Homo sapiens: one gene and its partners. The protein of the gene in region 1 purifies or fractionates together with the protein of each later gene. This does not show direct contact. Each region holds a gene or a part of one and is shown in the gene's direction. Other genes may lie near its edges.

Region 1 (3,085 bases):
TCTTTTTCTCCCACCATGTGAATACACACACACACACACACACACACACAATTTTTAAGCCCCCAAAGGCTTAAAATAGTACTTTTTGTGGTCTGTACCGGTCAGTTGGATTTTTACTAAGAATTTTAATTTATCCTTGAGATACTTGATGAGTGTATATAAGCAGTTGCAATTTAGCATACAAAACCTGACAAATGGTAAATAAAAGAATATGTTTATCCAAATGATGAAATATTTGTAGTAAAAAGTGCTATTCAATTGCCAGGAAATTAAAATACTCCAGTAAAATGAATTAAATTAGCATGTTAATAAGAGTGATAATATTTAAAAGTTTTAGTCAATCTTGCATTTCCATACTTGCATTATCTAAACTAGTTGAACTTTTCAGTGTTTTACTTGATATATTGCATTCTTGAGCATTAGGCTTCTAGGTGATTTGTTAAACTCATAGCAGGTTTTAGTACACAGTGCTGTTTATGACAGAAAAAATTTTATCCTACCTCTGAAATAATTGTACTTTCTGTGATTCAGATAAAAACTTTATAGAAACTCCCTAATGAAAATATTGAAGCATTAACCAGAAAATGAGTCAGCTTTTTGTTTCCAAAATGATGCAACAGGAAAACCTTTAACTACTTATAATCCCGTATAGTCACCATCACCACGAAGTATTGAAAATCTGTTTTCTCTTTTACTAAGTGTCTGCACGGTCACTTATGTATACCCAAAGCCAGAAAGATATTTTTATCTCAGGGAAATTCCAGAAATGGAAACATTTTTGTGTAATATTGATTCATTTCTGTCTCACCAAAGATGTGTTTTCCACGTAGCAAAGAACATCAGCCCCACGTTATAGGGAACAAGCGAGTCCCAAATCGTACCATCTGCTGAGCACTGAGAAAGGATATGGACAAGTCAGTCAGCATTCACAATTAAGAGAAAAACATCTGTGCTTTGGAAAATGTTCTTCAAGGATAGAGAATTGTGCCCTATGTCCACCAAATTTGCATGAGATCTTTATAAGATTAGACAGCCAGTGGATAAGGCCCCTTATCTTTCTTCATGGATGGCTGAGGAAATTCTCCGCCTTCCCTGACATCAGCTGCATAACTGTATTTCTGCCTCGTGGAAATAAAGTAGATGATCAGGCACTTGCGGTTTGTTCTTAATACAAGAAAGACAATTTGATTTTTAAAAGTTTTGATTTGTAGAATAATGTAAGACAATATGTTTCTTTCTACTTTGGTTTTTCCATTCAAAAGCTTACAGATGAATTCATTCGTTTAAAACTGCCAGGCTGAGTGCGGTGGCTCATGCCTGTAATCCCAACACTTCGGGAGACTGAGGTGGGCGGATCACCTGAGGTCCAGAGTTCAAGACCAGCCTGACCAACATGGTGAAACCCCATCTCTACTAAAAATACAAAATTAGCCGGGTGCAGTGCCACATGCCTGTAATCCCAGCTACTTGGGAGGCTGAGGCAGGAGAACCACTTGAACCCAGGAGGCAGAGGTTGCAGTGAGCCAAGATTACACCACTGCACTCCAGCCTGGGCAACAAGAGTGAGACTTTGTCTCAAAAAAAAAAAAAGAAACTCTGTCTCGAAGTAAATAAATAAATTTTTAAAAACCAACCTGATGTGAAGTTGAAACACAAGACGCGGAAATAAAAACTCAGAGTATAAATATCTATATTGTTACCATTATCTGGGATAATTGATGATTTATAAGAAGCTGAGGTTTCGTCTTCCTAGAAATGGACTTTTATTAGGCCAGCAAGAATGACCACTTAGCCATTTAAATGATTTGTCAGCATCTTTTGCTGCTCTCTTCTAAGACCATTGGTTTTCACTAAAGGATAAATACCTGCTAAGCAAATTATAAAATACTATAAGACATTTAATCTCCTGGAAGAGGACTTGCTGATAATTGGATCAAAGTTCCAGCATTATTGCTCTTTTCGAATCATATGGACTTAGTGTTCTCATGACCGAGGAGTCACATTTTTAGCTTGCTAAAATATTCACTGGAGAACATGGTGAAATCCACGAGTGGAAACGTTCCATGGTATTTTCAAACGCCACGTGTCAGGAATTTGGCATGCCTTCCTCTGGGAGAGGCACTGGAGTGTGGCCAGATGGAACCCAGCAGGGTACAGAGGGCATTTGTGGGAGCAGTTAGGAAACCAGGACGTCCAGCTTCTGCCTGCCAGGGAGCTCGCTCATGTTGTCTCTGAAATTTGCATAAGAGCAATTACCTCATATTCTAATTTTAAAGATACAATTTTTAAAGACATGGAAGGCTCTGAGACCTCCTGAAGGCTATTCCTATGTGAGGTATTGTTTACGGGTGGCCTTTCACTATTTCCAAATCAGCGATGAAAAGAAGACTGAGTCTAAAATAAATGAAGCAACAGACTTCAGCAGCCTGAGAGAATTTTGTTCAATTCCAGTCTCCTTAAAAAAAAATCGGTTTTTGCTTTCAATTTAGGAAAATTGTTTTGGGTTGCATTGTTGAAAGTAATGATTTCTAGCAGCTACTTATGTATAATCTCTTAACCAATTAAATTCTGAATCTCTTAAATCACTTGATTATTCATGCTGGTTTTAGTTATCCACTGCTGTATTATAAGCCACCCCAAAATTTAGTGGTTTAAAACAACAACCATTTTGTTCCCGCTCACAATTCTGTGCGTTGAATGTGCTCACCTGGGCAGTTCTCTGATTTGGGGTCTATCATGTGGTTGTGGTCAGATCATGGCTGGGACTGGAGTCTTACAAAGATTTGGCTGGGACACCTGGATGACTGGGCCTCTCCTCTCCCCATGGTCTCTACTTACTACTTACTAAGAGCACCCCAAATTGCAAGAGCAGAAGTTTCCAGGCATTCTTAAGGCTGATGCCCAGAACAGGCACAATATCATTTCTGCCTCATTCTACTGGTCAAATCAAATCACAGGCTGTATTGGGGTCACCAAGACACCCTCAGGTTTGATGATTCTCTAGAAGGACTCAGAAATCTCAGAAAAGCTATTGTACTCATAGTTATGGTTTATTATAGCAAAAGGATACAGATGAAAATCAGCA
Region 2 (3,500 bases), on another chromosome or scaffold:
GGTTTTTAAATAGTCCTCTTGTTAGAAAAGATTTAGCCCTTATCCTCAATCTCACAGCCACTAAATAGTCAATTCACACAAGCCAAGTGATTTGTAAAATAGGAGTCTCTGCAAACTGAGTCCAACCAGCTTGAATAATAGCATCATAACATAATGGGATCCCTTTCTGGTGGTAGTGTCCGGGACCAAATACCAAAATTCCTATTTTAAGCTGTATTAAGATTTTCTAAATGTAGCTATGTTTCAAGAGAAAATGCTTGGTCTATGGATAGCTGAAGCCATGTAAAACAAGCATTCTTATCACATGGGTCCAATATCGCTGATTTTACATGGCAGATAGACCTTAAAACGCATTCCTACTTTTCCCACTCCCTCCCACATTCTTTAAAAGGGTAGGGTTTATTATCTCTCTGAATACTCAAATGAAAACTTAAGTGTATAAACAAAACTAGAAAAATCCTTAGATTAAGATGGGAGGAAGATGGTCTTTTGACCTCTTAATATTAGTTTGATCTAACATCTTTTTTTTTTTCTATTTTTTGAGACTGAGTCTCATTTTGTTGCCCAGGCTGGAGTGCAGTGGCGTGATCTCAGCTCACTGCAGCCTCCACCTCCCAGGTTCAAGCGATTCTCCCACCTCAGCCTCCTGAGTAGCTGGGACTACAGGCCTGCGCCACCATACCTGGCTAATTTTTTTTTTGTATTTTTTGTAGAGACAAGGTTTCACCATGTTGGCCAGGCTGGTCTCGAACTCCGACCTCAGGTGATCCACCTACCTCCCAAAGTCCTGGGATTACAGGCATGAGCCACCGCACTCAGCCTGATCTAAGTTCTTTAAATGATCATTCCATATTGTTAAACAATGTTTCTAAGTGAGAGGTAGAGAATTATATTAGTTGGTAGGAGGCCTAAATGCTTGAAGACAATTTAGAGAAAACTAGTTATTTCCTTGGCACAAAGTAAATCCTACTACTCCTGAAGTATAAGAAAAAATAAAAATAAAAACAATAAAAATAAACAATTCTTTGATCAAATAATTTTTTTAATTGACTTGTTCTGATCATTAGGGCCTACTTGTTCAGCCCACTATCCTTACATGCATTAGTGGATTCCTTCTCTTTTTTATCTCTGAAGATTTCAGAAGTAGATCAGTGGATTCCTTAAATGTTAAAGAAACCCTGTCTTCTGTAATCCCAGCTACTCTAGAGGCCGAGACAGCAGAATCGCTTGAACCCATGAGGTGGAGATTGCAGTGAGCCGAGATCGCACCACTGCACTCCAGCCTGGGTGACAGAGTGAGACAGAATGAGACTCTGTCTCAGAAAAAAAAGTAAAGAAAGAAACCCTTGCAATCAGAAAGAAAAAGAGAATTACAACTTAAAGTGACTAATGTTAAATATACTATTATATTTGGACTATATATAAACTAGAAACCTCCAGGGCCTGGCCTCAGGTGGAGTTGTCTTGCAGCTGATTGCTTGGCTCTCTTCTCTCTTCCCAACCTGATGTCATCCACTTCCACAACTTTAAATGCCATGAAAGTGATGGCTTGCCATTTCCAGCCCTGCCCTCTTCCTGGGCTCCATTGTCCCTCTATCCTCAGCCACGTGGCTGTTTCCTGTGTCCCACAAAAGTGCCACGAAGGAAACCCAGCTCTTCTCTCCAGACCTTACCCCAAACACCTCCTTCTCATCTTAATAGCATCATCAGTTGCTCAGTCACAAAACCTGGGCATTCTTGATCTCTCCCGACCTCACCCCCACCATCGGGAGAGGACTCATCAAGAAATTCCAGAAGCTTAAGTGTCAGGGACTCTCCTTTGCTCAGGACCCTCTATCTCATTTTGTGTTACCCCATTGCAGGGTCCTCTATCTCATTTTGTGTTTAGTTTTTATTTTTCTTATGGAAGGCCCTCAAACTGTATGATTTAGGCCTCACAAACCTTGGATCGGCCTCTGCACCCTCTGTCCAGCTCATTTCCAAAAGAAAACTATCTCAAAAAAAAAAAAGAAAGAAAGAGAAAAGAAAACCATCTAAAACCGACCACACAACAGTGAACACTGTTGATTGCTACCACCTCAGTCCAAGCCCCATCCCACCCCACCCCACACTGCAGCCAAGATGATCTTTGAAAGTTGAAAGCTTCTCAGGTCAGATCTCTTTCTTAACCCTCCACTAGATTCCCCTTTCCCCTAGGACAAGTCACACTACAAGAGGCAGGACACGGTGGCTCACACCTGTAACCCCAGCACTTTGGGAGGCTGAGGCAGGTAGATCACCTGAGGTCAGGAGTTCAAGACCAGCCTGGCCAACATGGTGAAACCTCGTCTCTACTAAAAATACAAAAATTAGCCAGACGTGGTGGCGGGCACCTGTAATCCCAGCTACTCGGGAGGCTGAGGCAAGAGAATTGCTTGAACCTAGGAGGCAGAGGTTGAAGTGAACTAAGATCACGCCACTGCACTCCAGCCTGGGTGACACAGCAAGACTGTGTCTCAAAAAAAAAAAAAGAGAGAGAACAAGTCACACTACAGAACCATCACAATGCCCTAGTAGCAGAACATGCTGCTGAACTATCAGGGTGCCCTGGGTGATCTGGCCTCTGCTGGCCTCTCAACCCTCTCAGCTTTAGCTATCCCCTTCTTTCCTTTCTGGAATACCCCAACTTGTTTTTGCCTCTGTCCTTCGTATTGTCACCTCTGCTTGAGAGAGCCTCCTCCATTTCTTTATTTGCCTCATCTTTCATTGTCACCTCCTCTCAAAAGACTGTCCCGGCAGGGCACGGTGGCTCACGCCTATAATCCCAGCACTTTGGGAGGCCGAGGCGGGTGGGTCACAAAGTCAGAAGTTCAAGACCAGCCTGGCCAACATGGTGAAACCCCGTCTCTACTAAAATACAAAAAACAAAAATTAACCGGGTGTGGTGGCGGGCGCCTATAGTCCCAGCTACTTAGGAGGCTGAGCCAGGAGAATTGCTTGAACCCGGGAGGCGTAGGTTGCAGTGAGCCTAGATAGCGCCACTGCACTCCAGCCGGGGTGACGGACTGGGACTCTGTCTCAAAGAAAAGAAAGACTGTGTCCCTAGGGTATGACCCCACTCCAAATCCAGTCATTCGTGATCCCATTATCTTCTTTTTTCACCTATAACTGTATGCAAGTATCTTATCAGTTTACTTGTTTATTATCTGAATTCTTTCAAAAGAGCTAAGCTCCCTGAAGGTGGGAACCCTGTCCGCATGCTCACCGTGGAATCCCCACAGCCTAGCAGCACCTCCCACAGAGGGGTGCCTAATATTTTTCTAAACAAATGAATGAAGAAAATGTTCATTAAACAAATACTACTGCAGTTAAATGTGGCATCAAGCAGTACTACACATAGGATGCATGGAATTGAAGCCTATGAACCATTATAAGGTCCCTTTCATTTGTTCCTCATTAACTGTGGATGACTAAAAATCCATGCTGCCAATAGCTCCAACTATGAGATGCAGATCGATGTC
Region 3 (3,500 bases), on another chromosome or scaffold:
AGATGCTGACTGGAGGCTCTTTGGGGCCTAAGCTAGGCTTTTATGTGGGAGGAGATTATGCCTTGAAACTCTCTTGGGGCCCCGGGGTGTGTGCTTTGAGACAGTTTTTATGAGGCACCTGGGATATGTCTGCGTGAGGGAAGTCTGATTAAAGAAATGCAGCAGCGTCTTATGTTTTTTATTTTTTGGAAAAAGAGGAGAGTATATTTATTGGGGCCAAGAGTGAACTAGAACTTACCACTGTATCAAAGTTTCTCTGTTGAGCTGTGTGGGACACTTAAATCAGAAGAAGTGAGAAAATACACGTGAAAGCACTTTGTTAATTATAAATTGAACTACAGATTCAAAGTATTATTACCACTAAGATCTTTCTACTAAGGCAACAGATTTTGTAGCTGGAAAAGGCTGGCATTTTAGAACACCTTTATAGATGAAAAATAGTTTTGAACTGCTGAACGGGGTATTTTCTGACTCAGAACAGCAAAAGTCAGGCCACTCCCTCTGTGAGTCAGTCAAGTAAAATTTAATTTGAACGAACCAAATTTATAGGCAGAAACCATTTACAACATCATTGAACTTTGTAGCACTAGGAAGAGTAAATGTTTGAATACTTTTGTGTATAGCTTTAAAAAACAGTATGAGAGCCCCATATATAGTTGACTTGAAAAAAGTTTCAAACAAGGTAAATTGGATTTATTTTTCTTTAGAATTAACTTTTTATTCATTTTGTCCTATAAAGGTAGTATTTCCTTATGCAGTAATTAAGGAACACTTTACAATTTTCAGACACAAAGTTGAAATTTAGTAGGGATTTATTTTACAGGATTTGACTATACTTTTTCCTTTTTGTTGTAATGTGGGGGTTGGTAACCACTGAAGCCTAGAAAACGAATGTATTTACAAATAAGATGGAGAGGAGCAGGTGCATACATTTTTAGCTGTTGCTCTTGGTCTTGGAAGAATGAAGCTTAAGTTTTTGTGAAACTAAGTTTGGTTGATTTATTTGGGTGCTATTCCATCAACTATATTTGTTGAATAGAAGATGGGATCTTTAAAATTTTGCTTAAGAATCAGGATCCATAGTCTTTTTTGTTTGTTTTGGTTTTTTTTAAGACGGAGTTTTGCCCTTGTTGCCCAGGCTGGAGTGCAGTGGTGCAATCTTGGCTCACTGCAGCCTGCGCCTCCTGGGTTCAAGCGATTCTCCTGCCTCAGCCTCCTGAGTAGCTGGATTACCGGCACACGCCACCACGCCCAGCTAATTTTTTGTGTTTTTAGTGGAGATGAGGTTTCATAATGTTGGCCAGGCTGGTCTTGAACTCCTGACTTCAGGTGATCTACCTGCCTCGGCCTCCCAAAGTGCAGGGATTACAGGCATGAGCCACCGCGCGGCCCAGGATCCATAGTTTTAACATGGTGGACTTAGTTATGTTTATCGAATAGGGTGATGGTAGAGATCTTGGGGTACTGGTAAAGTTCAATATTACCCTTTCAGGGTTTAGGTTTCCACATTCCTTTCTTACGCCAAATCATGTATTGTCTCATTTGAAACTCAATAATCCTGTAAGTAGTATTCTTTTAGCTTTACAGATAAGGAAATTTATTTATAGATTGATTGTTGTTGGGTTTTGTTTTATTTTGTTTTCTTCCAGACAGAGTCTTACTCTGTTGCCCAGGCTGGAGTGCAGTGGTGCAACCTCAGCTCACTGCAGCCTCCACCTCCTAGGTTTAAGCGATTGTCCTGCCTCAGCTGGTATTATAGGCGTGCGCCACCACGCCCAGCTAATTTTTGTATTTTTAGTAGAGACAGGGTTTCGCTATGTTGCCCAGGCTGGTCCCGAACCCCTGAGCTCAGGCGTTGAGTTGCTGGCCTCAGCCTCCCAAAGTACTGGGATTTGATTATTAAATCCCAGGTTTTAGAATCTAAGTTAAAGATTATCAATAAATAGATAGCAGTGAATAATTTTTTTTTTCCTTTTAGGGGCTTAAAGTACTTAAATCTCTGTTGAACAGTGGATACCACCAGTTATAATTACTTTGGGAGATGGTGATTTGAGTCTCTTAATCTGTGAAATATTAGAAAAGTCTTGGCTAGGCACAGTGGCTCATTCTGGGAGGCAGACACGGGAGGATCACTTGAGGCCAGGAGTTCGAGACCAGCCTGGGCAACATAGAGACAACATCTCTACAAAAAATACAAAAACTAGCCAGGCATAGTGGTATGAACCTGTAGTTCCAGCTACTCAGGAGGCTGAAGTGGAAGGATCACTGGAGCCTGGGAGGTCAAGGCTGAAGTGAGCCGAGACTATGCCACTGCAGTCTAGCCTGGGAGACAGAGGGAGACCCTGTCTCAAAAAAAAAAAAGAAAAAATCTTTTCACCATTTTCATCTTTTGAACTATTAACTACGTATAGAGGTGTCAGTTAGCTTTCTCTCATTATCCTTTGTTTTATTGGCTGAACCTCATTCTATGGGCTCCCTTGACTCCCTGGCCACTGTCTTGGCACTTGAAGCCTTTTAGGTTGCTTAGTGTAGAGCTGAAGTGCATATTGTGTGAAAATCTTTTTGCTCTTTGGAGTGGTAGAGGTCTAGGCTCAACCAGAAACTGTCACTACCCTAGCACCTCCATGAAAGAAGCTGCACAGCAATACTAGCTGTCTGCTTTCCACAGTTCCCCATTGTGGAGTTACCAGGACTTAGGTGAGAGAATGACTCGTTTCCTGCACTGTTTGTTCAGTCAGTGTAGATTTACAGGACACAGAAATCTTTCCCAGAAAAATGACTGTGAGGAGTTGACAGATTATACAGATATTTTTTATGTGACTTGAATGTAGACGGTTTTTGTTTGCCTATACTGATTTTCTTGCCCACAGGTTATGTTAACACAGCATCCACTTCATTTTAAGTGGCCTAAACTAAATTTCATCATTTGAATATAAATTTACCTTACACAATGTTGGCTTTTTAAATTCTTGAGAATTTTAAGATTAGGCTTTTTTGTGACCCTTTCTTTGCTAGTTGAGCCTGGTTTGAAAAAATATTTTGAACATTTAGAACAGTCTTTACCTTTAGAGAAGTGGTGCATTTAATTCCTCTCATAGTATTTTTTATTTGAACTTTTAGTCTTCTCAAGACATTAATTCTTTTGGCATAAAATGTACACATGATATATTTGTTTTAGCAGATCAGATAAATTACTTTATATTTTTATTTCTGCAGTGGCCAGATATGTTGGCTGTTAACTAATGTATTGTTTGACAGGAATTCAAATTCACAATCAGGTCTGTTTTCTTCCAGTTGTCCTTTAGTTTTTGTTTAAATTTGACCAACTTTTTATTTTCCCCACCGTTTTACAGGAAACATTCACTAGGTTGTATCACCACAGTATTTGTAAATTGGATTTATATACAAATGTTGATATTTGTTGTTTTTAGTAGCAGAACAAATTGTTGTGTATTGTATTTTCCATTATTGGTGAAAAGCCTTTCATTAGGGGATGGAGT
Region 4 (3,500 bases), on another chromosome or scaffold:
GGTTCTGTTATAGTCCTGTAGGGAACATTGGTAGCCTTATTTTAGTAGGCATCAACCCTCTTAATTCAAATTATAACTTCTGTCTCATCTTCCATCAGCTCTCGCTCCTTCTGTAAACCCAGTTATTCAGTTATCAGCTCCCCAAGCATTTGCTACACTTTTTAAAATCTGTTCCCTGTACTGTAGTTTAGGGGTTAAACAAAGACTTCTGAGTGTTCATACTCAGAAATAAGGAGCCACCTTCCCCAGCTGTTCTCCTCAGGGTTTCTCCCACACTGTCCAGGTTATGTGGTTTCTTGGGCTAGAGTTGCAGTGGGATTTCTGTTGGAGTTTTGGCTCTCCATACAGCTCCAAAACTGGAACCCACTCTCAGGACAAAGCTAGGAAAAGGATTGGAAAAGAAAATAAAATTGGCAGCTCACTCTTCTGTCATTTGATCTTCTGTCATTTGCTTTTCTGAGTTTTGGCCCTGCTGTACAATCTATCTGGTCGGGTTTACTTTTCTCCATCTTCAAGCAGGGTGTGTCTTCAAGCATGCATGTCTGTGTTTTGATTCGGAATTGATAGTTATAATAGAAGCATGAGCTGCTGGGAAATTATACCTCCTGATTTGTGTGGTTTTATTTGTTCATCTTGCAGGTTTGAGTAGTTTTTGGTGGATGTGTTGGGAGATTTGAATGTTACTTAGCTGTTATTATCTCTACTACTTTGGTAGTCAATATTGAATTTTTTCACTGAATCCAGCCAAACACTTTTTTTTTTTTTTTGGTACTAATTTCTTGAAATAATGTATTGATTAGATAAGAGAAGTATGTTTTCAGCAGTTCTGTCTACAGAAAGGCTTGTTCTAAGAACCATACAATAGGAATTTTAAATAAATCAAAAGCCTTATATTATGGAAACATCTTGCTTATATTTATTCTGTTAATCTGTAATGTAAAGTTAGATTAAAAAAAAAAAGACAGTGATACAACAATAAATACCTCCCAAAAGCAGGCATAGTCAACTCTGAATTTCAAAGGGGCTTATTATAGGTGGAAAAAATTTCAACATTTATTAAAAAAATAAAGATAATTTTTATAGCATTATCTAAATAAAAGAAAAAAAGTTTTAATCCTGCAATAGCCATATGAATTTGATCATGTGTGTTTTTATGTAGTAATCAAGATTGTTATGAGATTTAAATTTGTTAGTTTTTTATGTGTGTTAAAATGCAGTTGAAGATCCCAGCGTAGTTCTACTTTTCGTTTTTTTTTAATCTATGGACTTTTAATATTTGTGATCCAAAACCTAATGTGTAGATGATGATATTCAAACTTAAATATTTAATAATGTTTAACATATAATTTTTTCCTTTCAGATGGTCTTCTTATTATTGGTGTTCACTCGGCTAAGTTTCCAAATGAAAAAGTCCTGGATAACATTAAGAGTGCTGTTCTTCGATACAACATCACCCACCCTATGGTTAATGATGCAGATGCCAGCCTTTGGCAAGAACTAGAAGTTTCCTGCTGGCCAACTCTAGTCATACTTGGACCTCGTGGAAACATGTTGTTTTCTTTGATTGGAGAGGGACACAAAGATAAATTATTTTTATATACTTCAATTGCTTTAAAGTATTACAAAGACAGGGGGCAGATCAGAGATAATAAAATTGGAATAAAACTCTATAAAGATTCTTTGCCACCTTCACCATTGCTATTTCCTGGCAAAGTAACAGTAGACCAAGTTACTGATAGATTGGTAATAGCAGACACTGGACATCATAGAATTTTGGTCGTTTGGAAGAATGGACAAATTCAATATAGCATTGGAGGTAAAACTTGCTTCTGATTACGATAGATAACGTGTTTTACAGTAAAAAAATAGTTCAAGGTAAATATAAAAGTTGAAATGTCTAAATGAAAACTAATTATAGAAAAGTGATATACATTGACTTAATTTCCTAATAAAAATTTTTTGTTAATTAATATGATGTCTGAATTAACCTCTTCTCACTCCCTCATAAAACAAACAAAAACACTGAAAAAGCTCCAGGTCAAAAAGAGGAAATAGTTCAGCTTTTAGGTATATTTGTATATTCTATCTTTTTTTTTTTTTTTAAACTGCTGTACTTACTGTTTCTTATGAAAACATACGTTTTGGATTTCAGATGTTTTAAGTAGAAGTATTATGTTTCACTTTCCAACAAAATATAGCCGTATCTTTTTAAAGATCATGTCAGTGCCCCATGAACTTGAGATGTAGTTTATAAAATAAATAAGCTAGAATTTGTGCATAGTTTTACTTTTCTCTCCTTTCTTCCATAAGAACTTGAACATGTTTCTGGATCTATTTCCAGAATAGAAATAGGTGTAGCAGAGTATGAGTATCATGCAAGCGTAGATCATTTTGTTCTATATCTCCCTGGTCTTAGATCTAAAACTACCTCTTGGTTACATCTACATAATTAATAAACTCTACTGAGTACATTCTTATTAATCTTTCTTATCTAAACTGAGCTGACATTTGACAGCATGTTAGTCAAAGACAAAAGTAATTCATTTCTTTGCAATCCTGCTTTAGTAATATATGCAGCATTAGTACATAAAGTAGAAATGTCTGTGTTCCTAATATAAAAAAGCTAGTTGTGGTCCTATGCCCTGATGTTATTCTTAATATACCAAGATACAGTATGTGTTGTGTTTTGTGGTGTTTGTTTTGTTTTGGCTACTTGGTATTTTGATTTATGACAGGCAGTTACGAGAATTGAATTGTTACTCAAAAAGTGTCTTTTGTAGCAGTTTGAATTTAAGTGGTTTTAAAAGTTAATAGATTCTGTGATTTTCAAAATAGTGTAGGTGAATATTCTTTGTTAAAAGAGAAACCAGCAGCAAGCTACACTACCCAAACATAGTTCTAGAAATACTGTTATCTTTTGATACAGTTATTCTTTAATTTTTAAAAAAGAATTCTTTGGTCAGATACACTCAGGAAACACTTTTAATGTTATCAGATTTTTATTGGTGATGGTATCATAATATTTCCCAAATTTTTTACTCTCCTAATTTTCCTTATGGGGGGGTATAGTACACAATATTTTCCAATCTCATGTAACCACAGAACTCTCCCTTTTTTTTCAGGGAACTCTTATCAATATCAACACAATAATAGTATTATTAACAATTGTAGGTACAGTAGACACTATATGTCTGGCATTATTCAAAACATTTTACTTGTATGAACTCATTTTTGCCTGCACAATGCTATGAGTTAGGTAATTAGTTCCATTTTACAGAAGTAAAACTGAGACACAAAGAACTTTCCCAAATCACCAGCTAGAAAGAGACAGACTTGGGATTTAGACAAGGTCTATTGGGCTCTTGAGTTGGTTTTCTTTTTTTTAAAGATGGAGTCTCACTCTGTTGCCCAGGCTGGAGTGCAGTGGCATGATCTCAGCTCACTGCAGCCTCCACCTCCTGGGTTCAAGCAATTCTCCTGCCTCAGCCTTCCAAGTAGCT
Region 5 (3,500 bases), on another chromosome or scaffold:
GACTGTGCTGGGGGTGGAGCCTTGGCCCCTTCCTGGAGAGGAGGGATGGCCTGCCGCGCTCTCCTGCTTCCTAGGACCTTCCTGCTTGTGAGGGCCCAGTCAGCAGTGCCCTTTGTCATTGCAGGAGTTGGTGGCTTCAAAAATGCCAGGAAGGGATCTGCTTTGCAGATTTTCTGCCATGAAAGCCCCCTTTGTGGTCCATCAGAGGCCATAGCCTCAGAGGAAGCCCTGAAGAGCAGGTTTCTTTTTTTTTTTTTTTTTTTTTTTGAGATGGTGTCTCACTCTGTTGCCCAGTCTGGAGTGCAGTGGTGTGATCTTGGCTCATCGCAACCTCTGCCTCCCAGGTTCGAGCTATTCTCCTGCCTCCCAGGTTCAAGCTATTCTCCTGCTTCAGCCTCCTGAGTAGCTGGGATTACAGGCATGAGCCACCATACCTGGCTAATTTTTGTATTTTTAGTAAAGACAGGGTTTCGCCATGATGGCCAGGGTGGTCTGAAACTCCTGACCTCAGGTGATCCAGCTGCCTCGGCCTCCCAAAGTGCTGGGATTACAGGCATGAGCCACCGAGCCCAGCCGAGCAGTTTGGGATGATGGGGAGAGAGGCAGGGAGACAGAAAGGCGTTCTCAGGCTTTCAGCATGGCTGGGACCCGCTGTCCCCACAGCAGAGAGTGATGCAGGCCAAAGGTCAGGGGTACTGAGCTTGAGGAACTCCCTAGATCCTGAACTTCCCTTTCCTGGCCGCTTCTGCTGGCCCATAATAGATATGGAACCGATAGTGGATGAGCAAATGAATGAATGAATAAGTGAATGAGCAGAGGCGACCAGGAAGAACTGGGCATCAGTGCTGAGACATGCTGGCTGATGGGGTTTTGATGAGGACGACACAATCTGACATATTCGTGAGGATCCCTCGCTCTTTAGGGGCTGAGAGGGGGAGAGGCTCCTGTGCAGAGCCAAGGCAGGCGTGAGCATGAGAGAGCAGCCCCCACCAGCTCACCCAGAAGGTGCTGGGAGCTTCTCGGCCTCCCAGCTGTGTCCTGGCCACCACAGCCCTCGGCCTTCTCCTCCTCCTCCGAAGGATGGGCTCAGAGAGGGACAGAGATGCCCACCCCTCCTCCCTGGGGACATCAGGGCTGGCATTGCGCTGTCGTGCGCGTGAGGCTTGGAGAAGGCAGGATACGCTTGCCAGCACATGAAGGCTTTTCCCAGTGGGGCTGGGCGGTGCCCCAGGTTCTTCTTCCCAGCTTCAGCCTTTTCCCTGTAGCAGGGGCTGGGCAGGGAGGCCTTGGAGCCCCAAGGCTGTAGCTTTTCTCCATATCTTGGTCAGGCCCCGGAGCCCGCTGTTGTCTCACTCTGTGACTGCGAGTCTCATCTCCCCCTCTGTCTCGCTCATCTCCTCGTCTGTGCTTCTGCTTCTCTGCCATCTCTCTCTGCAGTCTCTATTGTTCTCTTGAGGCCCTTCTCTGTCTCTGCCCATGTGTCCCCTGGAAATTGAACTCGAAGGCCCCAACAGCAAGAACAGTGCCTGGCACACTGTGGGCACACGGGGAGCACTGGCTGAATGGGTGGTGACCTCTGAAAGATAGGGGTATTGCAGGTGGGGGCAGAGGATGCGCGCGGGGACCCTGGCCCGGAGCAGGCTGAGTCATAAGCTGTGTGCGTGACATCTGTGTGCTGTCTCCACCCCAGGAGACAGGGGTCCCCTGTTCTGTGTGTCCCCTTTACCTGGGCTGTGCTGCCTGTCACGAGGCCGCTGAGCGAGCACAGGCCCAGGCAGACGACCCGCAAACCTTGCCTTTGAGGCAGCTCATTTATCTCCAGCAACTGTCAAAATATTAAGCTAACTGGGATGTGATTGCTGTGAATTGCTCCAGAAAAATAGCTGGGAGCTCTTAAGATTTTAAGAGATTTTTTTTTTTTTTTTTTTTTTTTTGAGACCGAGTCTTGCTCTGTCGTGCAGGCTAGAGTGCAGTGGCGCAATCTCGGCTCACTACAACCTCCGCCTCTCAGGTTCAAGTGATTCTCCTGCCTCAGCCTCCCGAGTAGCTGGGATTACAGGCACGTGTCACCATGCCTGGCTAATTTTTTTGTATTTTTAGTAGAGACCTGTTAGCCAGCATGGTCTCGATTCTGAGCTCGTGATCCGCCTGCCTCGGCCTGCCAGAGTGCTGGGATTACAGGCGTAAGCCACCGCAGCTGGCCGAGAGATAATTTTCTAATACTGCCGTTGTCTTTTGATGCTTTCATTAAATGATGGAGAAAATACAATTAGCATGTTTGCCTCATTTGCTCCATGGTGTTCATTTAGGTCCAGAGGGCCACTCGAGTTGTCATGGAAACCGGCTTGTCAGGCTGGCTCTAGCTGAATCCAACAGGAAATCTTTATTCCCAAAAGCAGGTTGTCAGATTCACTCTCAGTCAAAGTGCGGTGGAAATATTTTCCCATATTATTTGCCTGTGGTTCCCAAGCACTGGGAGCCCCACGTTCCCAAGGTGTGTTCTGTGCGGGGAGGAGGGGCAGGCACAGGCCTTTTCTTAATGGGCCCCCTGGGGCTTGATTTGGAGCCTGGGGCTGTGTTTATTGAGGAGGAAAAGCGCTTTGCCTTGGGGAGGCAGGTTCAGGTAACTGGTGGGAAGTGAGCTCCTCTGGGGGTTTTGGGCAGGGCCCTGGGGCTGCTCCTGTCTCCCTTTCCTCCATTACTTCCTGCAGTTTGCTCTTCTGCTTTATAGTGAGGATCTTCCACATTGAAGAAGCCACTTTTATTTATTTTTTTAAGACAGGGCCTCGCTCTGTCGCCCAGGCTGGAGTGCAGTGGTGCAATCTAGGCTCACTGTAATCTCTGCCTTCCGGGCTCAAGCGATCCTCCTATCTCAGCCTTTGGGACCACATGTGTGCACCGCCATGCCCAGCTAATTTTTTTTTTTTTTTTTTTTTTTTTGAGGCAGAGTTTTGCTCTCGTTGCCCAGCCTAGAGTGCAATGGCGCCATCTCGGCTCACCGCAACCTCTGCCTCCTGGGTTCAAGCTGTTCTCCTGCCTCAGCCTCCCGAGTAGCTGGGATTACAGGCACCACCACGCCCGGCTAATTTTTGTATTTTTAGTAGAGACGGGGTTTCTCCATGTTGGTCAGGCTGGCCTCAAACTCCTGACCTCAGGTGATCCGCCTGCCTCGGCCTCCCAAAGTGCTGGGATTACAGGTGTGAGCCACCGTGCCCAGCCAACCCAGCTAATTTTTTGTATTTTTGGTAGAGACGGGGTTTCGCCATGTTACCCAGGCTGGTCTGGAACTCCTGAGCTCAAGTGATCCACCCACCTCAGCCTCCCAGAGTGCTGGGATTACAGGTGTGAGCCACCGTGCCTGACAAAGCCACTTTTTAAAGGCATCCTTGCAGATACTTCTCTGAAATGACTGGGACATGGGAGTATGGCACCAAGTTGCTGTGTGACCCTGGGTAAACCCCTAGACGTCTCTGGGCCTCAGACTCCTTCTGTACAAGTGA
Region 6 (3,500 bases), on another chromosome or scaffold:
CTAAATAGGCCACGAAAAGGACACTTGTTTACAGTACAAGAGCTGAAACAAGAAAGCAGAGCGTCGCCTTGTTTGACCCCATCTGGGAACATGCTACCTCGGCTGTGAACGGTGCACTGGGCAACTCAGAATCTGCCCTGCTCTGTGGCTGTCTGTGAGCAACTGCTAACGGACCTCAAATGCTAGTTTTGGGATTACACATTTTAGCAAGTAGGTAAACTTGCAAAGAAAGAATCAGAGAATAATGAGAATGAACCCTACCTTTTATAGGTGTCTTCGTTGTGTAAAATGCGATGATAGTTTGACTCCTACCCATCCCCCAGTTGTGAGAGGATGTTATTTTACGTAAATATTACCAAGGAATTTTTAAAAATAGAATTCAAACATACTTCAGATATATGTCTGTAATTCATATATGGATGTACTACTATCATTAGATAATTCTCAAAACTCAATGTCCACTTAAAGTGAGGTTTATATAAAGCCATATTCAGATAGTCTAGCATTTCTATTTTTTTATCCAATTGTCAGGACCGATCAAACCATCATTGAGGGGGGTTTTATTTTTTTAGATGACTCAGTGCTGTTATTTTCTTATTGTTTATACTTTGCATTAGTGCTTACGTCTTTTTTTGTTTATTTTTGAGACAAGATCTCATTCTGCCACCTGGGCTGGAGTACGGTGGCACGATCACAGCGCACTGCAGCCTCCATCTCCTGCTCTCAAATGATTGTCCCACCTCAGGCCACCACACCCAGCTAATTTTTGTATTTTTTGTAGAGATGGGGTTTTAGTATATTGCTCAGGCTGGTCTCAAACTCCTGGGCTCAAGTGATCTGCCTGCCTCCCAGAGTGCTGGGATTACAGGTGAGAGCCACCATGCCCCACCAGTACTTATGTCTTTAATGAGTGGTTTCTACAGGTACCATTTGTCAGATACCAATTTTTGAGGGTTAAATTAAAACTGGATAGAATCCATAAATCCACATAACTAAGTATAGATAAATCTCAGTACATTGCACCACAGCATTCAGCTGTTTTAAACACCACTGTCATCTTCGATCATTGTGGACTTCCCATTCTTTCAGGATACCTTGAATATAGGGCACAACTTATGAAGGTCTAATTTAGCAGGCCTAGTGAGTACATATGTGTATCTTAATGAAAAGAAGACACTGTTGATTCTAAGATGTACTATCCAGGAAGAAAAAATACTGCCAGCTATGATTATAAGATGCCATCCTTTTAAGACATGTTCTTTTTCAGAGATGTGAAAATGTAAAAAATGTGTTTTGGGAATTATTGAAAATATGACAGTAAATATTGCTAAAGCCTATCATTTGAGAAGGATTATAGTTTAGTGGTTAATCTGGTGCCAGATTGCCTGGGTTTGAATCTTGTCTGCTGCTTATTAGCAAACTTTATTAGTTGTGATTTTCAGTGAATTATTCATTATATCTGTGCCTTAGTTTAAATATTAAATGAATTAATAAATGTAAAGTGCTTAACCCAGTGCCTTACCCTCAAATGTTAGTCTTATTGTAATAGAAATAAATATAGAAATTCATTTTTTCCATATCTCAGCGGGGTTTTTACACAGTCTGCTTTGGAGTTCACTATTCTGTTCAATTCAAATTCTATAGTAGTCTTAGATAATGCAGGCAAATTCTGCTTGAAAAAATTATGCCTTAATTTCCTTTGATGTAATTTAAGATATAAACAAGCTTCAACTTTGTCTTTTTCTGCCTATAAAGGGATGTGGAATATTATAGTCAGAGGTTTACTGAGTAAAATAAAAATTTGTTTTCTAAAAGTTACTTTTTGCTTACTTGTAATTGCTTTTATTGTTAAGTCTTACTTTAATTGTTCAGTAACGATATCAGGCTTCGAAGTCTTATATTGTGTCAATCTATATAAGTTGAATCTTCATTTAAAGAAAGAACCATTTCTTGAAATGTGCAATTAAAGTTAAATCACCTTGAAGCAAAATCTTGCTTCCCATTCCAGACACAGTCACAACTTATCAAATGAGCAAGTCACAAGCAACAAGAAGTTCCAGTAGGTCTTCTTAAGGTGGCACCATATGAGCTAACAAAGTAAAAGTGAGAAGCGGTGACGTTTTCAGCACCAGATTTAGGCTGTAGGAAAACCAGTCACCCAAGAGGGTGGGGGAAAACTGAAACCAGCAGGTGCTTTCACCATCATGGCAGATCTGCCATGTAAATGGTGGTGCCCCTATTTTTGTCTGCAGGGATACTGACCTCAAAGGAGGTCATACAGTTCATGATGGTACTGGGATTAAGCTCAGGCTCACTCCTTGGGTTTTGCTATTCCACAACTAATGTTAATTCTGCCATCACTTTAGAGATGCCGACTTTCATATCCAGTGTCCCCTGCTGACAGTTTCTTCTACTTCACTAACTTTCGAAGATTTCCTAGCATTTTTGGAGTCTGTTTTGTAATACCGTTATTTAAATGCTTGTTTTTGCAAGCTATTGTTGTCTTTTTTTGGATCTGAATAATTGTACTAATTTTTTTTTCTGTTAGTGTTCTGTTGAGAAAACAAGTTGAGTGAGACTTTGAATATTTAGAACTTAAAATTTCATTTACAGAAGAAAGTAAACTAAATGGCAAACAAACTGGGAAAAATTGAAGTTATATAAAATGTGGTTTATATAAATCTAAAGAGCTCAAATTTATGGGAAGATTTCTGATAGGCAAAGGATGTAAACATAATTCACATGAGGAAATTAGGCAAAGAAACAACAGTTTTAAAATACTGTTTTATACCTGCTGAAATGGAAACACACACACACACACACACACACACACACACACACACAATAGCTAATCCTAGCAATGGTTTGGTAATTTACTGGGGACGTTACAAACAGTCCTCTTTTTTTAAAAAAAAATCTGTATGGCAACATGGAGTGAACTATAAAGTTCTTAATAAACTTTAATTCAGACTCTTACACTAGCAAATTTTCTTTAAAACAGCATTGAATAGCATATATACAAATATGTTCATGTCTGCCTTATTTTAAATAGGAAAACTTATTTAGGTTATCAATCTAAATGAATCTTATACAGTCATTAAGAAGGTAAAAAAACACAAGCAACTTATACTACATATACTTAAAACTTATATATCAGCATATGTATTGTATATATACTGTATGTACTGTTTTATATGTATAGTTATATATATTTTTATGTTTTGATAGCTTATACATATTTATATGTATTATACAAAGGGAAGAATATGCTGAAATCAAAATTATGAATGGCTTAGGGTGCTGGGATTGTGTTTATTAAATTTTATTTTTAATTTCAAGAAAACTTAATTTCTGCTTGTGTTCTGTAGTTCTTTTTCTTCAATCCTTATCTTGCAAAAAATATTTACAGGATGTGGCGTTCTTTCTTTCCCATTAGAGATACTTTTTAAACTCCAGAGGTCTTTCCTCATTCTTTTTTTTATCCTAAGCAACGATGATCA
Region 7 (3,500 bases), on another chromosome or scaffold:
ATCCCAGCACTTTGGGAGGCCGAGGCAGGCAGATCACCTGAGGTTAGGAGTTCAAGACCAGCCTGGCCAACATGGTGAAACCCCTTTTCTACTAAAAATAAAAAATTAGCCGGGTATGGTGGCATTTGCCTGTAGTCCCAGCTACTCAGGAGGCTGAGGCAGGAGAATCGCTTGAACCAGGAGGTGGAGGTTGCAGTGAGCCAAGATCGTGCCACTGAACTCCGGCCCAAGCGACAGAGTGAGACTCTGTCTCAAAAAAAAAAAAAAGTGCAAAAAAGTTAGCCAGGCATGGTGGCGCATCCTGTACTCCAAGCTACTCGGGAAGCTGAGACAAGAGAATCACTTGAACCCGGGAGGTGGGGATTGCAGTGAGCCATGATCGTGCTGCTGCACTCCAGCCTGGGCAACAAGAGTGAAAATTACGTCTCAAAAAAAAAAAGCACCAAATTACACATGAACAGTAGAGGAGATGAAGTTGTGTGTTTATAAGTAAAAGACTACATACACAGCAGTGAGAAGGGGAACTATAGCTGAATGTTTTGGCACAAATGAATCTCAAACATAATCCAAGCAGAAAAAGAAAATCACAATATATACAGTTCAAAAACCGGCCGGGCACAGTGGCTCACCACTGTAATCCCAGCACTTTGGGAGGCTGAGGCGGGAGGATCACCTGAGGTCAGGAGTTCGAGACCAGCCTGTCCAACATGGTGAAACCCCACATCTACTAAAAATACAAAAATTAGGTGGGCATGGTGGCAGGTGCCTGTAGTCCCAGCTACAGAGGAGGCTGAGGCAGGAGGATCACTTGAACCTGGGAGGTGGAGGTTTCAGTGAGCTGATAATCTGCCACTGCACACCAGCCTGGGTAATAGACTGAGACTTTGTCTCCAAAAAAAAAAAAAAAGCAGGCAAGAACTTAATATATGATTGAGAGTAAAACTCAGGGAAAGCAAGAGAGTTTTTTAAAAACTACAATATCGGCTGGGCACGGTGGCTCACGCCTGTAATCCCAGCACTTTGGGAGGCCAAGATGGGCAGATCATGAGGTCAAACGATTGAGACCATCCTGGCCAACATGGCGGCCCGTCTCTACTAAAAATACAAAAATTAGCTGGGCGTGGTGGTGCACACCTGTAGTCCCAGCTACTCAGGAGGCTGAGGCAGAAGAATTGCTTGAACCTGGGAGGTGGAGGTTGCGTGAGCCAAGATCACGCCACTGCGCTCCAGCCTGGCAACAGCGAGACTCCATCTCAAAAAAAAGAAAGTACAATATCAAGGATAGTGGTTTCCTTAGATGGGGACAGCCACAGAGTGCAGTCAAGCAGAAGCAGCTGAACTAACTCTGAGGTGAGGTGGGGGTTGTATGAGTGTCCGTCTTTTTTTTTTTTTTGATGGGAGTCTCGCTCTGTCCCCCAGGCTGGAATGCAGTGGCAAGTTCTTGGCTTATTGCAGCCTCTGCCTCCCGAGTTCAAGAGATTCTCCTGCCTCAGCCTCCCGAGTAGCTGGGATTATAGGCGTGTGCCACCATGCCCAGCTAATTTTTTTTTTTTCGAAACCAAGTCTCACTCTGTCGCCCAGGCTGGAGTGCAGTGGCGTGATCTCAGCTCACTGCAAGCTCCGCCTCCCAGGTTCATGCCATTCTCGTGCCTCAGCCTCCCGAGTAGCTGGGACTACAGGCACCCGCCTGGCTAATTTTTTGTATTTTTTAGTAGAGATGGGGTTTCACCCCATGTTAGCCAGGATGGTCTCGATCTCCTGACCTCGTGATCCACCCGCCTCGGCCTCCCAAAGTGCTGGGATTACAGGCGTGAGACACCACGCCCAACCAAATTTTTTGTATTTTTAGTAGAAACGGGGTTTCACAGTGCTAGCCAGGATGGTCTTGATCTACTGACCTCATGATCCGCCCACCTCGTCCTCCCAAAGTGCTGGGATTACAGGCATGAGCCACCCGCCCGGCCCGAGTGTTTGTTTTAATATTCTTTACGGTATACATACTGTATCTTGTATGTGTAAGAAATGTTTTATTTTATTTATTTATTATTTTTTTGAGATGGAGTCTCACTTTGTCACCCACGCTGGAGTGCAATGGTGCAATCTTGGCTCACTGCATCCATCACCTCCTGGGTTCAAGCGATTCTCCCACCTCAGCTTCCTGAATAGCTGGGACTACAGGCACCACCATCAAACCTGGCTAGTTTTTATATTTTTGTAGAGACAGGGTTTCACCATGTTGGCCAAGCTGGTCTTGAACTCCTGACCTCAGGTGATCCGCCTGCCTCGGCCTCCCAAAGTGCTGGGATTACAGGTATGAGCCACCGTGCCCAGCCAGAAATGTTTTATTTTATAAAGGGTAATGGTCATACCTGCCTTGTCTACATGTCAAATGAGATAATCAAACGAGAAACATTAGCTTTAATTTTGTGGGCATTTACTCTATGCTAATCACTGATCTGTGTTTCTCACTCATTCAGCACAGTAACACTATGAGAGAGTAGAACTATTCTTGTTTAGAGATAACAGGTCAGAGTGGTTTAGTAACTTGTCCAAGGTTACACTGCCTGTAAGTGACAGGGCCCAGCATTTTGCAGAGTGTCTTAGTCTGTCTTGTGCTGTTGTAACACACCAAAAATACCAGAGGCTGGGTGATTTATAAAGAACAGAAATTGGCCAGGCATGGTGGCTCACGCCTGTAATCCCAGCACTTTGGGAGGCCGGGGCGGGGCAGATCTCGAGATCAGGAGATGGAGACCATCTTGGCTAACATGGTGAAATCCCATCTCTACTAAAAATACAAAAATTTAGCCGGGCGTGGTGGCACGCACCTGTAGTCCCAGCTACTCAGGAGGCTGAGGTAGGAGAATCACTTGAACCCGGGAGGCAGAGGTTGCAGTGAGCCAAGATTGTGCCATTGCACTCCAGGCTGGGTGACAGCAAGACTCTGTCTCAAAAAAAAAAAAGATCACAAATTTATTTCTGGCAGTTCTGGAGGTGGGGGAGTCCAAGATCAAGGTACCAGCTGGTTCATTTTCTGGTGAAGGCTGCTCTTCTCTTCCATCCAAGATGATACCTTGTTGAAGATACCTTATTTGTAGGAGAGGAATGGGAGGAATGCTGTGGCCTCACATGGTGGAAAGCAAAATGGCAACAGGGCCAAACAGGCATGAAGCCTGTTTTCCTTTTTCTTTCTTTCTTTTCCTTTTTTTTAGAGACGAGACGGGGTCTCACTATGTTAACCAGGCTGGTCTCAAACTCAAGCAATCCTCTCACCTCGGACTCCCCAAGTGCCCAGGATTGCACGCATGAGCCACCATGGCTGGCCTTTTTTTTTCCATAGAGATATGGTCTTGCCATATTGTCCAGGCTGGTCTCAAACTCCTGGGCTCAAGTGATCCCCTGCCTCCTCCTCCCAAGGTACTAAGATTACAGGTGTGAGCCACCACACCCAGCCTGAAGCCTCTTTTATAAGGGCCTTAATCCCATTCAAGAGGAAGGAG

What was found.
Region 2: the proteins of TNFAIP8 (region 1) and IPO5 fractionate together in Homo sapiens (co-fractionation; one large-scale study listed by BioGRID). This does not show direct contact.
Region 3: the proteins of TNFAIP8 (region 1) and PTP4A2 purify together in Homo sapiens (affinity purification with mass spectrometry; one large-scale study listed by BioGRID and IntAct). This does not show direct contact.
Region 4: the proteins of TNFAIP8 (region 1) and NHLRC2 fractionate together in Homo sapiens (co-fractionation; one large-scale study listed by BioGRID). This does not show direct contact.
Region 5: the proteins of TNFAIP8 (region 1) and ACOT7 fractionate together in Homo sapiens (co-fractionation; one large-scale study listed by BioGRID). This does not show direct contact.
Region 6: the proteins of TNFAIP8 (region 1) and PPP1R2 fractionate together in Homo sapiens (co-fractionation; one large-scale study listed by BioGRID). This does not show direct contact.
Region 7: the proteins of TNFAIP8 (region 1) and DPP3 fractionate together in Homo sapiens (co-fractionation; one large-scale study listed by BioGRID). This does not show direct contact.

Annotation. Positions count from the first base shown.
Region 1 is NC_000005.10:119,397,104-119,400,188, forward strand, and holds the end of TNFAIP8 (tumor necrosis factor alpha-induced protein 8), read left to right. Parts: 3' UTR 1-2,585; downstream 2,586-3,085. UniProt on the Homo sapiens protein: Acts as a negative mediator of apoptosis and may play a role in tumor progression.
Region 2 is NC_000013.11:97,956,675-97,960,174, forward strand, and holds part of IPO5 (importin-5), read left to right. Parts: intron 1-3,500. UniProt on the Homo sapiens protein: Functions in nuclear protein import as nuclear transport receptor. Serves as receptor for nuclear localization signals (NLS) in cargo substrates.
Region 3 is NC_000001.11:31,931,869-31,935,368, reverse strand, and holds part of PTP4A2 (protein tyrosine phosphatase type IVA 2), read left to right. Parts: intron 1-3,500.
Region 4 is NC_000010.11:113,875,161-113,878,660, forward strand, and holds part of NHLRC2 (NHL repeat-containing protein 2), read left to right. Parts: intron 1-1,360; coding exon 1,361-1,816; intron 1,817-3,500. UniProt on the Homo sapiens protein: Required for normal embryonic development.
Region 5 is NC_000001.11:6,334,768-6,338,267, reverse strand, and holds part of ACOT7 (cytosolic acyl coenzyme A thioester hydrolase), read left to right. Parts: intron 1-3,500. UniProt on the Homo sapiens protein: Catalyzes the hydrolysis of acyl-CoAs into free fatty acids and coenzyme A (CoASH), regulating their respective intracellular levels.
Region 6 is NC_000003.12:195,536,826-195,540,325, reverse strand, and holds part of PPP1R2 (protein phosphatase inhibitor 2), read left to right. Parts: intron 1-3,500. UniProt on the Homo sapiens protein: Inhibitor of protein-phosphatase 1.
Region 7 is NC_000011.10:66,500,934-66,504,433, forward strand, and holds part of DPP3 (dipeptidyl peptidase 3), read left to right. Parts: intron 1-3,500. UniProt on the Homo sapiens protein: Cleaves and degrades bioactive peptides, including angiotensin, Leu-enkephalin and Met-enkephalin. Also cleaves Arg-Arg-beta-naphthylamide (in vitro).